2 separate regions of the Homo sapiens genome follow, and region 2 is linked to region 1. A link means that fine-mapping ties the variant in region 1 to the expression of a gene that starts in the linked region. Tissue or cell type: whole blood. Region 1 holds a variant in brackets; the other region holds the start of a gene. All regions are shown on one strand. Distances are between the middles of the regions.

Region 1 (8,109 bases):
TAATATTGTTATTCCTTCTCTTTTAATCTTTAGAAAGGTTACATGATTAAAATTCTTTTAAAAATACGTATTTATGTAGTGTTCATTGGATAAAAGAAATACAGAAAATATAAAGAAGGAAGAAAAACCAATAAAACACATAATATAAAGCAGAAAAAGACCACTGTAAAAAAGTGTTTATCTTTCCACATTTTTTTCTAAGTATATAGAGACAAATATAACATAAAAATGAAATCATCCCCTAAGGTGGTTTTATTAGCTACTTTAACATTTAAAACATATCATGAATATATTTGTCTGTGTCTGTAAATATAGATCCAGGATTATTGCAAATAGCTTCATACACCCCATTATAAAGATGTGTTCTTATTCAAAATCTACACTTGAAAATAAAAATTATAAGTATATAAATATACACATATACTAAAAAGTGGTAGGCAACAGATACTTAGTACTTTTTCCGTAAATTTTATTATTACCTTATATTCTTCACATGCAATTGGGACAAATGGCCAGAGAAAGATATATTTTAGATGTGTAAGTTAATTAACTATAAACTGTAAGAGTACATCATAGTAGCTATACATGTGATTAACAAGCTAGTCACAATCATTCTTTTTATTTTATAAACACAAACTATTATAAATACAAAATAAGAAAAAGATAGTTAAATGTTAGCTGTTATGAAGAGTGAAAACATTATATAAATTTCAAACGGCTGCTTTCTGCATCTGCATCAGTATAATTTCATGATTTTCTACCAAGTTCATTTGTATAAAGAATCTCTATGATCAATTTATCATTCACTTTCATGCCCCCACATGGAAAGTGGTAGGTGAATATCTGTAGGAATACAATTTATTGTCTGCTTGTCCACTGAAAAGTAGCCCTGTGTCCCTATCCAGTCTACACTCAGAACTTTGTCTTCATGAGCAGCCAGATCATACAACTTCTTGTATCCCACAACTTGACAATGTTATCTAAAGATCCTGAAATCAGTTGCTGTTCATGGGTAGGAGACCATTTTACTAATGTCACGCAACCTGTATTTGAAGTTAGGGACAGTGACACCAAAGAATGGTCTTTAGTTCGGGGATCCCACAGTCTGGTATGCCTATCTGTGCTTCCAGATGCTAAACGTTTACAAAGTTGGAGAATGGGAAATACAATTAAGCACTTTATTTCCTGTCAAAGCTTGCCTTCAGACTGTCAGACTCAACATCCTACACTCTAATTGTATGGTCCCAAGATGCACTGCAGATTTCTTCAGCATCTGACCACAGAACTGAGGAAATTGCTTCCTTGTGACCAGAGAGGGTCACTATGGGAGTCATAGCTGCTCTGTGTTCTCTGTCGATTTGTGGATTCCTCCATTTCATCTTCTTCTTCTGTAGGGACTGTAGACCAGATCTTTAGCATCTTATCCCAGGAGCCACTACAAAATTTAGTTCCTGAGCTATCAACAGCTATAGACTCTGCACTTCCAGCATGACCTCTGCAGCACGGTCGGGCTTTCACTTTGTTTCTCTCTATTCCACTCCCATAAGAGAATAGTTGGATCCATAGAGGCACTCACAAATAAGCAAGACAAACTATCTTTTTTTTTGGCCCAGGCCACATCTTTTAAGACATCCCTATGTCCAACAATTGTCATTATTGACTTTCTTTCCAAGGACCGGATTTGAGAGGTCTTATCATAAGAACCAGTCAAGATCCATTCCTTTGCCCCTTTAACTGAAAGGATCCAGTCATCATGGAACATGCATTGCTCTGGCTGGGGTGCTGTGTACTTCACATATTCTATTTCCACAACTACTTCTGATGACATGTTCTCCAGTTCCATGTGTTTGACCAAGGACATTCGCAGAAACTGGCCCTTAATAAGGAAATAAAACTCCATATGTTTGTGGAACTCATTTTTGTCCTTTAGTAATTTATTGATGATGTTACTAAGGTCAGCAAATTCAGAGGCGGCAGGGATTGAGAAGGAAACATCATTTACAGCATATTTCTTGTTATCGGTGTAGAAATGTGTTTGGAGCTGAGCCAAGGCAAGGAGTACACACAAGACTTTTGGGTTAGTAGAGAGAGAATGGGAGCTCCTGTCTCTTAACTACAAAGAGGCCGCTCAAAATTAGACTGCACAGGTAAGCGAGAAGCTGCAGTCTAAGCCTGGACTCTGCTTTTCCTCCTTGGGTCTGCTCCACCCACAATCATTCTTTCTAAGGAGCCATGAGTCTGTCTATGGAGTCTCCAATCTGCAGGTTATCACTCATAAGTACATTCTAACAATATATGTGCATCAGTGTACATTCTACTTTTGTATTCTTTAAGTAGCAAATAAGCAGTTTCTATGTGAATTTTGTTAAACTTTGGGTGAATTTCAAACAAATAGTAAAATAGAGATACTTGCAAAATGAAATTTCATGTATCCATCACCTGGCTTCAACATGATCAATTCGTGGCTAATTTTGTTTCTTCTCTATCCACTATGCCATCCCTTATTATTTTGTTTTGTTATCATTTTTTTTGTTTTTTGAGATAGGGTATTACTCTGTCACCCAGGCTGAAGTGCAGTGGCGTGGTCATGGCTCACTGCAGGCTTAACCTCCTGGACTCAAGCTATCCTCCCACCTCAGCCTCCCAAGTAGCTAGGACTACAGGTACACACCACCATACCCAGCTAATTTGTTTCTTTTTTGTAGAGACAGAGTCTCCCTATGTTGCACAGGCTGGTCTCAAACTCCCAGGCTCAAGCGATATTCCCACCTCGGCCTCCCAAAGTGTAGGGATTACAGGTGTGAACCGCTGCTCCTGGCGCCCTTAGTATTATAAAGTAATCCCAGTTATCACATTATTTCATCCACAAACATTTCAGTATGGGTCTTTAAAAGATAGGGAGTTCCTTTTTCTTCAACATAACCACAGAACCATTATGACTTGTGAAATATTTTTGATGTGTTTCAGAGAAGAGAGTCCCATTATTATAATCCAAAATGACTAAACATACATTTTTTCTCAAAACAGAAGGTTTTCTGGTTGTTATACTAACCTTCCACAGAGATCTTAAGACTTGTAAGGATGAAATATTTGTTTGAATACTGAGAATGATAAAAAATGTTTTTTAAATAAAAAAAAAACTAAGGAAATATTTGGCTTTACGTGATCATTTTATGATGTGAAATGATCTCAAAAGCTTTTTAGGAAATGACCCTTTAAAGATATGTATGTCTTCTTCTAAAAGTTTGACTGACTTAAAGTAAAATTAAAAAAAAAAGTTTGACTGCTTCTATCAGGTGTGACATTAAGGAGATAAAATAGCTAATGACTCTGCATTTGAAATTTAATTTAAACAGAAATAGTCATCAATTAATAATGTTGCTCAATTTCTGGGAAGAGAGAAGTCCAAGGTTTTTAAGCCCTCATTTAAAAAAAACAGATAGTTTAAAAAATCCTGATCCTTAAACCTGGACATATACTTTCTTGTTTGATGCCACATGAGGTGTATTTAGGGTATGGGAGGATTTGCTTTGCGTGGCCCCGAACTGAAAATCAAAGGACCACCTGAGAGCTAAATTTTTAGGTAAGCGTTGGCTGGTCCTTATCATGTATAAGTATTAATGCATGTAGTCAGCCTATACAATTCATTTTCATGTAACATTTATTTTATGTCTTCCACGTGTGATGCACTTTTCTTGGCCCTTTCATGTGCACTTGTTCATATAATTTCAGCAACAACCCTCTGGAAAAGGTATAATAATTCACAGTGACTGAGGCTCAGCAAAGTTATTGCCTAAGATGATGCATATAATGGATGGTGGAGCAAGGATTCAAACCCCG[A/G]TGTTCTTTTCACCATTGCACGCTGCCTATTGGCAGAAACAGTAAATAGTAAACAAATGGAACAGTTATTTTAATTTAAATGTGTCTGATGAAAATAGAGACATGAGTACAATATACTTTTGTTCAAAATATGCCACTAAAAGCACCCCATTTGCTAAAAGCTCTCAAAAAATGTAAACATTTTCTCAGGGTTAATTCATATATCACTTCTTTCTGTATTCTCCGTCTCTTGGAATTCTCTTTGTTTCAGCCATCACTTCTGTGCCACAATTGCTGAAATGCTTGTGTCTAACCACCACATCTCACTTGATTTCCAGCTAGAAATTCTGTTCAACTCTCCTACCTGAATGTCTTCATGGCATATGAAACTCCATATATCCAAATATTTCTTCTCTCAATTCTCCCAACCCTTACTTTCTCTTATTTTACCTATTTATAATAAAAGCATAAGTATTTTCTCAGGAAACTAAGCCTAGAATCTTGGTTACAGTTTTTTGTTTTTTTTTCTCACGTCTGTTGTTAGGTACTGGATCTTTTAAGTCCCATCTATACTGTCTTATAACCATTCCTTAACATTTCTACCGCTATCAACCTAGCTCATTGTTTTCTTTTTTTTAAAAAAAGAGATAAATTAATCTTAATGACATTTAGAAACAGGTAAAGGATATAAATAGCAAATGGGTTTTTTTTTTTCTTTTTAGATGGAGTCTTGCTTTGTCACCCAGGCTGGAGTGCAATGGCACGATCTCGCCTCACTGCAACCTCTGCTTCCTGGGTTCAAGTGATTCTCCTGCCTCAGCCTCCCGAGTAGCCGGGATTACAGGCGCCTGCCACCACACCTGGCTAATTTTTGTATTTTTATTAGAGATGGTGTTTCATCATGTTGGCCAGGCTGGTCTCGAACTCCTGACCTTGTGATCCGCCCACCTCGGCCCCCCAAAGTGTTGGGATTACAGGCATGAGCCACCTTGCCTGGCCAATAGTAAACAGTTTTAAAGGTAGGCTATGTTATGAAAAGCATCCCTGTCTTCTAGGTCCAGTTCCCTTCTATAGAAACAACCATGATTAACCGGTTTCTTGTGTATTCTTCCATAGATGTTATAAACATATACAGACAGATATCATATATAGATACATGTATTTTCCCCCCACAGATGATTGCATTCTATATATATATATAGTTTTATATTGACCTTTTTCTTTAACTTAATATATCTTAGACATCATTTCAGATCAGTACATGTAATAGAAAAGATAGCTATCATTTTTGAGTGCACACTATGTACCAAGAACTGTTCTAAGCACTCTTCATAATTGTCTCATGCACTCCTTGTACTGATCCTGTGAGGCATGTAGGTATGATTACTATCTCCATTCAAGAACTGAGAAAACAGGTGTACAGAGATGTTTTTTGAGCTTCACAAAGACTCACAGGTATTAGGATTAAGCTGGGGATCAAACCCATGCAGAAAAGGTTTCACCAACTGCCTCTTCCACATGTCAGCTCCAGTCACCTCCTGGCTTCATCTCAGAGGCAGTGGAACCATGTAGCTGCCCAGCCTCACTCCCTGAGCAAGTGTGATCTCCTCTGACTCTTCCTATCAGCTAGGAATCTGTCTGCAGGCATTTATTCTAACCTTTCATGAGGTCCAGTCCTGGGAACCCCACCGCTACACTTCAGTCAGGTGTCACTTGTCTCTGTGTCTCCTTGAAAACCTTGCATAATGCCTGGGACTTGTAGTGGGCCAAGCAAATAGTTTGTCTTGTTTTCCCTTTTAAGTTTTAGTCTCTTTGGTCAGAAAATTAGGACTCTCCTTAAACTGCAACTTTTTTCACTTAGAGCTATGTTAGATGGGAAGCAATATTTACTAATTTAAGGATTTTAGAAAAAGATAATGTTAAGGCTGACCAAAACATGTTGCCAGACTCGTGGGCTGGGGATCTCTTGTACCTGTGTACCCTTTGAAGTAAGAATCATAGCTGAAGATCCTATTTGACAGAGGAGAAACTGAAGTTTGGAGACTATAGCTTCTGAATGAAACATTGTGATGGTTAATACTGAGTGTCAACTTGATTGGATTGAAAGATACGAAGTACTAATCCTGGGTGTGTCTGTGAGGGTGTTGTCAAAGGAGATTAACATTTGACTCAGTGGACTGGGAAAGGCAGACCTGCCTTTAATCTGGATGGGCACAATCTAATCAGCTGCCAGCAAAGCCAGAATAAAAAGCAGGCAGAAGAACATGAAAAGACTATAGTGGCTTATCCTCCCAGCCTCTATCTTTCTCCCATGATGGATGCTTCCTACCCTCAAACATCAGACTCCAAGTTCTTCACCTTTAGGAATCAGACTGGCTTCCTTGCTTCTCAGCTTGCAGATGGCGTGTTATGGGACCTTGTGATCATGTGAGTTAATACTCCTTAGTAAACTCCCCTTTATATATATATATATCCCATTAGTTCTGTCCCTCTAGAGAACCCTGACTAATACAGATTTTGGTACCAGAAGTGGTTCTAGAGGAACAGAATATTAAGGATGGAGTTCTTTTATTGGTTTTGGGGTTTCTGGAGTTGGCTGCTTAATGTGATTAGACCAAAAAATGCTAAAGGTTCTTTTTCTTTCTTTTTTTTTTTTTTTTGAGATGGAGTCTCGCTCTGTCACCCACGCTGGAGTGCAGTGGCGCGATCTCTGCTCACTGCAAGCTCTGACTCCTGGGTTCACGGCATTCTGCCACCTCAGCCTCCCAAGTATCTGGGACTACAGGCGACCGCCACCACGCCCAGCTAATTTTTTGTATTTTTAGTAGAGACGGGGTTTCACCATGTTAGCCAGGATGGTCTCGATCTCCTGACCTCATGACCCTCCCGCCTTGGCCTGCCAAAGTGCTGGGATGACAGTCGTGAGCCACAGTGCCCGGCCTAAGAATTCTATTTCTAATAGTATGGAGAACACCCATAGTCCTTGGCATGAACTGTTTAGAGAGTTATGCAAAATAAATGCATCTGATACTCCTGATTCACTGCTCGTGAGAGGCAAGGAGTTTAGTGACTTGAAACATAATACCTTTGACCATATGTGGAGAACCAAGGAACATAATAAAGCTGGTTGGTTGCTCCTACGTTCACTGGACAAAGTGATGAAAGAAAAATGATGAGCTCAGGGATTCATTTTCAGCTTCAGAAGTAGTACTGAGCCTCACACCTGCTAGATTACCCTGTGTAAGAGTCTTATCTCCTATAGAGAAAGAGCTGAAATTGTGGAAAAATAGACACAAGCTCTTATCATGTGAGTGGCTGACCTGCAACGAAAGGTGCATGCACAGCCTTTCCAGGTGTCTACTGTTAAAGTGAGGGGATTGACTGGAAAAGAATGGGACCCTGCAACTTGGAATGGGGATGTGTGGTGGAGGGCCTAATGAAGCTGGGGACACTGAGCTTGTTAACTCTGATGAACCTTTTTTGCCAGAAGAAACAGCTTCTTCATCCCCAGTAGTGGCAACATCCCCTCCCCAACACATGCTGCCATCAGCCTTTCCACCTTTGTCTGAGGAGATAAACCATGCGCTGCCTGGAGGCAACAGTGATGGCCTCCTCTGAGGCAGTTGCCAGGCAAAATAACGTTGATTCTCCTCAGGAGCCACCCCCAACACCCCTGTTTGCTTCTAGACCTATACCTAGACTAAAGTCCCAGCAGACCCCTAGAGGTGAGGTTCAGAGTGACCCTTGAGGAGATGTGCTACACTAGAAAAGAACTGCTTGAGTTTTCTAATTTATATAAGCAGAAATCTGGAGAAGAGTCATAGGAATGGATATTAAGGGTGTGAGATAATGGCGGAAGGAATATAGAGTTGGATCAGGCTGGACTTATTGATTTGAACCCACTAAGTAGAGATTCTGCTTTTGATGTTGCAGCTCAGGGAGTTAAAAAAGGTTTTAATGGTTCTAATAGTTTATTTGCTTGGTTAGCTGAAATATGGATAAAAGATGGCCCACTGTGAGCAAGCTGGAAATGCCTGATCTCTCTCAGTTTAATGTAGAGGAAGGGATCCAAAAGTTTAGGGAGATTGGATGCTGGAGTGGATTGGTCACTTTGGACCTACCCATCCCAGCTGGGAGGGTCCAGAAGATACACCCTTGACCAACGCTTTGCGAAATGGATTTGTGATGGCGGCAACTGCATCTCTGAAGAGTCCTGTAATTGCTCTTCTCTGTATGTCAGATCTAACGGTGGGAACAACAGTCACTCCACCACAAAATTTATAGGCCCAG
Region 2 (8,109 bases), 330 kb before region 1:
GTTAGGACAAGGGTAAATTGTTTAGTTATCCTAGTCACAGGAAAATTTCAAAATACAGCCTGTATCAAACCTGGTTAATTGTTCTGTCTCCTTGTGTTTATCACTGCAGTCTGCTTATGTAACTGGTAACCCTGTCATCATTGATGGAGGCTGGAGCTTGTGATTTTAGGATCTCCATGGTGGGAAGGAAGGCAGGCCCTTCCTATCCACAGTGAACCTGGTTACGAAGAAAACTCACCAATCATCTCCTTCCTGTTAATCACATGTTAATGAAAATAAGCTCTTTTTAATGATGTCACTGTTTGCAAGAGTCTGATTCTTTAAGTATATTAATCTCTTTGTAATCTCTTCTGAAATCATTGTAAAGAAATAAAAATATTGAACTCATAGCAGGAGAATAGTTTTTAAAATAAATCTCGATTTGTTAGCATCTGTCTTAGTCACTTTGGGCTGCTATAACAAATTACCATAGATGGAGTGTCATAGACAACAAACATTTATTTTTCAGTCTGGAGGCTAGGAAGTGCAAGATAAAGGTGCCAGCAGATATAGTTTCTGGTTAGGGCCCACTTCCTGGTTTGCAGATGGTCCTCTTCTTGCTGTATCCTCACATAGCAAGAGCAGAGAAAAAAAGCGAGCGCTCATGTGTCTTTTTATAAGGACACTAATCCTGTTCATGAGGGCACTACCCTTATGACCTGATTACCTCCCAAAGGCCCCACCTCCTAATGTATCATATTGCAGGTTAGGATGTCAACACATGACTCTGGGGTGATACAAATAGGCCATTGCAGCATATACAATTAAAATGTAAATATGAAGAAAAAAGGAAGTTTTTGTTTTTTTGTGGGGGAGATGGGGGTTAAGGAAGAAGATAGTAATTTCAGGACTAGGCATGGTAGCTCATGCCTATAATTCCTGCACTTTGGGAGGCCAAGGCAGGAGGATCACTTGCGGCCAGGAGTTCAGGACCAGCATGGTTAACAGAGGCTAAGGCAGGAGGATTACTTGAGCCCAAGAGTTTGAGGCTGCAGTGAGCTGTAATCATGCCACTGCACTCCAGGGTGACAGAGCAAGACCCTGTACCTAAATAATAATAATAATTTCCACTTCATTTTTCAATATTCAAATATTTTTATATAATTCTGCATTGTTCTGTATGTAGATCCTAATTTTAAAATTTTACACCATCATAAATGAACAAAGGTAGGAAGGAGTTTGGCTTCAATAGCTTACAGTAAAAGGAGTAAAGGAGTTCAGCCTCAAAACGATATTGTTGACCTGTTATGTTATGAAAAATAATCCAGTGTTTATACTTAACGGATGCCATCCCTTATTATTTACTATTTTCTTAGTCTAACTAAACAATCTTTATTAAAATAAGCAATGATATTTGACATGGGCCTAAGAAATATATAGTTAGCTAACAATATTGTCAGTTAGAGGGATTTCTTTTCTAAATTAAGTACAGATTTCTTCACCAAACTCCAGGATAACAGAAAAGAGGACATAAAATTTGGACATAGTTTCTGGATAAATAAATGTAAATTTAAATATAAATTATGTAACAGGAAACAAACGAAATTAAAGAAAATAAATTTTTCAAGAAAAGTAAATTTATGGATGTTAATTCTGTAACATTGTCAGGGCAAAGTTTTTTGTTTTTATTTTAATTTAAGGGTTTTATGTTTGTTTTTTACTTGTTGCAACCTCAAATGACCAAATGGTATGATGCACACTGAGATACTCAATAAATGTGCAGTGATTCTTAGCCTTTTTTCCTAGAACTTTAATATTAACATGGAAAATTCTGAAATGGACAACAAAAAGATAACACTTTGTGTATGGGGAAGAATATCATGCAGTTGATGACGGTACATTAAAATTCACACAAAAGGACATTTTGACTAGCATTCAGAAAGAGTCCATTGATTATAAGATTATCTATGAGGTTTTGGACCGGGCACTACACTACCGAATTATGGCTAACTTTGGTTTGTGATCTAGACCAAGTCACCCAATCTATCTTGGATTTTAGTTTTCTGGTTTATGAAATTAAGGAGTTAAGCTAAATGACTTGGGTTTCTTTTCGTGTATCATAATCAAAATGCTGTAACTTCTCTAGTGAATTCATAGAACACTGACTCTTACAAGTATGTCATGAAATACTTTATGCTGTGAGCAGGTATACATGTATAATATATGTATAGCTATGAACAAATAAATTTTAAATAAATGCACAACGAATTCTACAAAATGGGCTCCAACATTAACAAATGATCTGAGTTAGTCTTTCTCACAGCCGACCATAAACTATAAAACATTTTTATAAACACTATCAGCAATAAAAACGAAGTAAAATCTAGCCAAAAAATTCAATGTTCTCCAAAGTCATGTTAATCAAATCAGGTGATATATTAATGAAGTACATATGACTAAAAGGAAAAATATATGTCATTCCTGTGGTAAGAGGAAGCTGAATGTCACTAGAAATTTTTACAAGCTTTAGGAGAGGAAGAGTTCCGTTTAGGAAAATAATCATTTCAGATGATCTGAAGAAGGGTATTGGATGGAACCTATCCAATAGGTTCATCACAAAAGAGGACCTGAGAGACAAGAATGAATGGTTTCTGACTGGTGGAGAAATTTGAGGATAATCTCCCTTGCTTGAAAAGCGGTGATTAAGATTGGCACTTGCTTACAGGAGTGAAAAACAGGTAAGGGGTGCGCGCGTCTTAACACACACAAGAGGAAATACAGAGAAAAGGAAGACACAAACATGAAATGAGAATTAAATGAAATAGAATCACACTGCTGATAGAAGGGTTAAAAATCTAAAATACAACAAGAAGGGCAGGTGTTAAGCGATAAAGGGGGGCAGAACAAGTCTTTTATCCGGCCATTTAATTGGTCACCTTAAGAAAGAATCCTATCTTCCCACCGCAGCTGAGAAGACACTTCTAAGAGGTACAGCTAAAAGGTGGAGGACTGATAGACAACTTAGAGGTTGGTTTCGGGAACGATAAAACAAGTAACGGGCTGCCCGGCCTGCGCCGCGGAGTCCCGAGGAGCCTGCGCTGTGCTCCTCTCGCGGTGTCTCGTCATCTCCGGGAAGACTCGGCGCCTGGGTCCGCGCTCTCTGGGTAAGCTTTCCGGGAAGCTTTCCCGGGAGCTCGCTGGTCCTGGCCCCAGAAGCCTGCGGACCCGCCCAGGGAGGATAAGCAGCTGAAAGACCGCGCGGTGCCGCTCCGAGGCCCCGGGACGTGGGCCCATGGTCGGCCTGGCGCCACCTTTCCGGGGGAAGCCACGCGCACCAGGCATCGCACGCGGCTCTGCACCCGCGCCGCCGGACCTGAAACCCGGCGGAGGGCACACGGGGCTGCCGCTGCGGGCCCCGGACCAACCCATGCTTACTCCGGAGCCTGTACCGGCGCCGACGGGTCGGACCTCCCTGCGCGGTGTCGCCCAGCGGGTTCGTGCGAAAGGCGGGGCCGACTACACGCGGTGCCGCGCCCTGAGACCGTTTATCTGCAGTCAACGCAGCCTCCCGGCTCAGCCTGGGAAGATGCGCGAATCGGGAACCCCAGAGCGCGGTGGCTAGACCGGGCTCCGCCGCCTCCCCCACAGCCCCTTTCCTAATCGTTCAGACGGAGCCTGGTCGACTTCGCCGGAGACTGCCAGGTGAGAGGCCCCAGAGACACTAAGGGTAAAAATAAACCCAGCGCCAGCGGCGGGTACCCTGTAGGCCTGCTGGACCGGAGACGCGAGCGAGGGGCCCAGCCTTTTCTGTTTGTACACCCGGTGACGGGCGCGTGTCTGTTTACTGTTGTAAGGTGTTGGCGTGGGTTTTCTTGCTTGCTTTTATTTTAGTTCTCAGATTAACCAGAGGGGGTGTTGCCTTTGTGGACTGGGTTAGCATCCTCGAGGTGCTAAGAATCATCGTATGCTATTGACTGAAGAATATAACCTTAAGACAGCAGTAGCTGCTGTAAGAGATAAAGTAAAACATCTCAGTAACTAAACATAGTTCAGGCTTATTTCTCGTTCATGTCAAGTCCATTCACGTGTTCAGCTGTTGGCCTTCTACTCAATTATTCAGGAACCCAAACTCCTTTTATATTATGGCTTTGCTATCCCCTAAGACCTTGGAGTCCTTAGTTTCCAGGCAACGGACAGAAAAAGAAAAGCTACTAGAGGATTGCATGAGGATTGTTTCTTATGGGTGAGGACTGGAAATCACATACTATTTATGTCCACATGCCATTGACCAGACTTCAGTCACATGCCACACTGACCTGCAAGGGAGACTGGAAATGTACTATGGACCCAGGCAGAAGAGTAAACGATTTTGGTAAACACATATCAGTCTCTGACCATCCCTTAAAGGGCAGACTGCATCTTAGTCATCTTTGTTACTCTTGTGCCTATCACACCAGAGAAACTTGTTAAGGCTTTGTGAGGCCGAGGTGGGCATATCACCTGAGGTCAGGAGTTCGAGACCAGCCTAGCCAACATGGTAAAACCCCATCTCTACTAAAAATATAAAAATTAGCTGGGCATGGTGGTGCACGCCCGTAATTCCAGCTATTCCGGAGGCTGAGGCTGAAGAATCGCTTGAACCCAGGAGGCACAGGTTGCAGTGAGCCAAGATTGTGCCACTGCACTCCAGCCTAGGTGACAGAGCAAGACTCCATCTCAGAAAAGAAAAAAAAGGAAATGAAACTTGTTAAGGGATGGGGTTGTTATGTGTCTAAAGTTGAAACTTAACCATATTTCATTGTGATTGCTTAGGAATCATTTATCATCCTTTATCATCCTGTAACTAGATTACAAGATCTGAATATAGGAACTATTTAAGACCGTTCACTTCTGAATCCTCAGCTCAAGGACTGGGACGTAACAAGAGCTTAATAGCTCTTGTTTGTTGAATGAATGAATGAATCATCAGAGAGGAAAACGAGGGAGACAGTTTGTCAATGTTGGAGTTAGGAAATACTGAGAAGGTGACATTTGAGTTAGATTTTGAATTTCTTCAAGTAGAAAAAGCAGAAATGAAACTCCAGGCAGCAATAGTAGTGATATTTTATTGTTGTTGTTTTGTTTCATGAGTGGAAATTTGGAAAACAACCAAACGTTTATAAGTCCAACTTTTCTTCATTCAGTATTCAAATATTACAATTTAACTTCAGGGTAGAGGAGGGGAAATACATAATCTTACAATCCAAATAATTTCTGTTGACTAAAAGAATGGCAGTGAAAACCTTGGCACTAATTTTTAACTTTATAAAATGTTATTTTCTGGACATTTTTGAGAAATTTCAATACAAAGGCAGTGTTCTGATCATTCATTGTCTATGATGATTTTGCACTGTAACAAGAAGCTAGAAAGATAGAAACTAAAGTTTGTAAGACAGAGGTTCCTCATCACTGCTGTTCATCAGGGCTTCTCAGGGATGGTTCTGCAACAAAATCACCTGTTATATTGGTTAGGATGCTTTTGGCTGCAAGTAACAGGATATTCAGCCAAAACTCCCTTCAAAAATACAGATGTACTTTGCTCATACATGAAGATGTTTGAAGGTAGGTGGGTCCAGGGTTTGTTCAGTAGCTCAGTAATATCAGGGCTCTATGTTGCTTTCTGTGTTCAGCTAATCTTGACTTTTCTTCATGGGTGAATGATGGCTGCTAGAATTGTCCCAAGAAACCCATCCACAATCCCAACTTCCCTTGCCTCTTTACCTGGTCATTTAAAGACAAAAAGAGGAGAGGATTTTCCTCCTCTCTCTCTGTCTTTATTAAGAAGGAAAATCTTATGTAATATGCCCCAATAGTCTTGCCTACAAATTCCAATGGCAAGAAATGAATCATGCTCACTCCTTAGCCAATAAGTGGCAAAGAGGAATGGTGTTACAGAGATTGATTTACACCAATAATGACTTATCCCTAGGGCGGGAGAAGGGTCCTACTGGCATACCTGAACACTTGGCATTTAGACAGGCCATAAGTCATGTCTGTCCCACTTGGGGTAGATTCGGTCTCTGTAGATTCTGATTTTAGTGGGCCTAGAAATAATATTTTAAACTTTTAGTAAGTATATTTCACTTTGGTGAGGAGAGAGAATAGAAAGGATGAAAGCAAGTATTGGGTCCCTTATGTAGGGGTAATTTCCTTTTATTCTTATCTCATTATATAGTGTTTTCCTTCATGAGTCAATGAAATTACTAAATCAATTAACCAAATAAAATAGCGGTTGTTTTCCTTTGGTAACTTGGCCACATGTATTTGACACACCTAAGTCTTTCAGATAAGGTAGTTCTCATTCAGGGAAACACTGTTAGTCATTTTAGTAATTAATTGTCTAAGAAAGTGTTAAGCCCTACTCTGAGCCTGATCTGAATTCCTCATTGCTGGGTAGGGCTCCTTTTGGGAAATGACCATTAGATCAGTGTTGATAAGCAAATACAGAAACTGGAATGTTTCTGTATGTTCTATGTAGAAATACTGTATGAGACTGAGAACCTATACGTTCAACACATGAATGGATGAACACAAAGGCAGGAGATTGTTGTTATTATTATCATTATAGAGTATTGAACAATCATAGTGATGCTCTTTCAAAGGCATGAATACAACCCAGAGTACTCTAGCAATGTCTTAGTCCATTTTTGTTACTGTAACAAAATACCACAAACTAATTAATTTATAAATAATCAAATTTATTTCTCACAGTTCTGGAGGCTGGGAAGTCCTAGGTCAAGGTGCTAATTAGATTTGATGTCTGTTACACACTTGATCTCTGCTTGCAAGATGGTGCCTTCTTGCCATGTCTTCTTCACATGGAGGAAGAGACTAATGCTGTGTTCTCAGATGGTGGAAGGGAAAGAGCCAAAGGGACTAGGCTGCTCCCTTTGACCTCTTTTATAAGAGCACTAGTCCCATTCATGAGGGTTGAGTGCTGGTGACTTAATCACTTCCCCAAAGTACCTCCCTCTTAATACCATCACCTTGGCAGTTACATTCCAAAATCTGAATTTTGGAGGGACACAAACATTCAAGCCATAGCAAGCAATATATGTAAATTCTCCATAAGATTACTCCTTTAAATGTCAGCCTATCCAAATCACAGGCAGCAAATAGCAAGAATAAAAAGTCTTTATCCATATCTTTTAGCAGTAACTGAAATGATAGCAGTAAGTCTATTTTACTTGACCGAGAGCCTACGGACATTTGTAAGTTGATAGTTCCTTTATTTCTTCTGGAATATTACAGAAAGTACTTGTAAACATTTACATTAGTAAGATAATATGAAAAAGAGAACATTTAACAAATATCTCTCTATGTGAAAACATATTTACAGAAATGGTTTCCAAAGTATGCTCCACTTGCCAGAAGGAACAGGGGTGAGTAGACAGGGCTCCTGCAGCGCCACCTTAGTCGTTCCATTTGTAGGATTTAAGGATTAGGTTTCATTTGATGAAAGATATTTGACATAAAGATATGAAGACCAGGGCTGGGTGCGGTGGCTCACGCCTGTAATCCCAGCACTTTGGGAGGCCAAGGCGGGCAGATCATGAGGTCAGGAGTTTGAGACCAGCCTGGCCAACATGGTGAAACCCCATCTCTACTAAAAATAGAAAAAGTAGCTGGGCATGGTGGCCGGCACCTTTAATCCCAGCTACTCGGGAGGCTGAGGCAGGAGAATAGCTTGAAACCGGAAGGCAGAGGTTGCAGTGAGCTGAGATCTCGCCACTGCACTCCAGCCTGGGCAAAAGAGCGAAACTCCACCTCAAAAAAAAAAAAAAAAAAAACATGAAAGCCAAACTTGAAAATTTTGAAAACCACTGCTATTGGTGATTCTGGGCAGTTACTCATCTTCTTTGAAAAATCACAACTACAAAAAATGATTTTAAATTGTGGCAGGTGTTATTAAGTTACCTCAAATCAAATCACCAGACTGTATCTATGAGAAATATTACCAAGAAATGTGGTACCATTTTCTTTTCTCTAAAGCTTTAGGAATTGAGTAGATTATTTTTAAATGTATTTAAAATTAGGGCCAGGCAGGGTGGCTCACATCTCTAATCCCAGCACTTTAGGAGGCCAAGGCCA

Evidence for each region. PIP is the estimated chance that this variant, and not a neighbour inherited with it, causes the effect.
Region 2: SLC9B2 starts here. The variant in region 1 is fine-mapped to the expression of SLC9B2 in whole blood (INTERVAL, PIP 0.99).

Annotation. Positions count from the first base shown.
Region 1 is chr4:102,745,342-102,753,450 of GRCh38, reverse strand. All of the region lies in intron 1 of MANBA (mannosidase beta), which reads left to right. It also overlaps the pseudogene WDR12P1. Among named protein-coding and RNA genes, the nearest start is that of MANBA, 12 kb to the left of the region's middle. The variant A/G (reference allele first, on the strand shown) is at 3,841.
Region 2 is chr4:103,071,756-103,079,864 of GRCh38, reverse strand. SLC9B2 (solute carrier family 9 member B2) reads left to right here and starts at 3,104. Exons shown (of 12, transcript NM_178833.7): 1 at 3,104-3,681. It overlaps BDH2 (3-hydroxybutyrate dehydrogenase 2), which reads left to right. Exons shown (of 10, transcript NM_020139.4): 10 at 110-2,273. The coding sequence ends at 163. RefSeq lists an enhancer at 3,105-3,224 and a silencer at 3,335-3,444.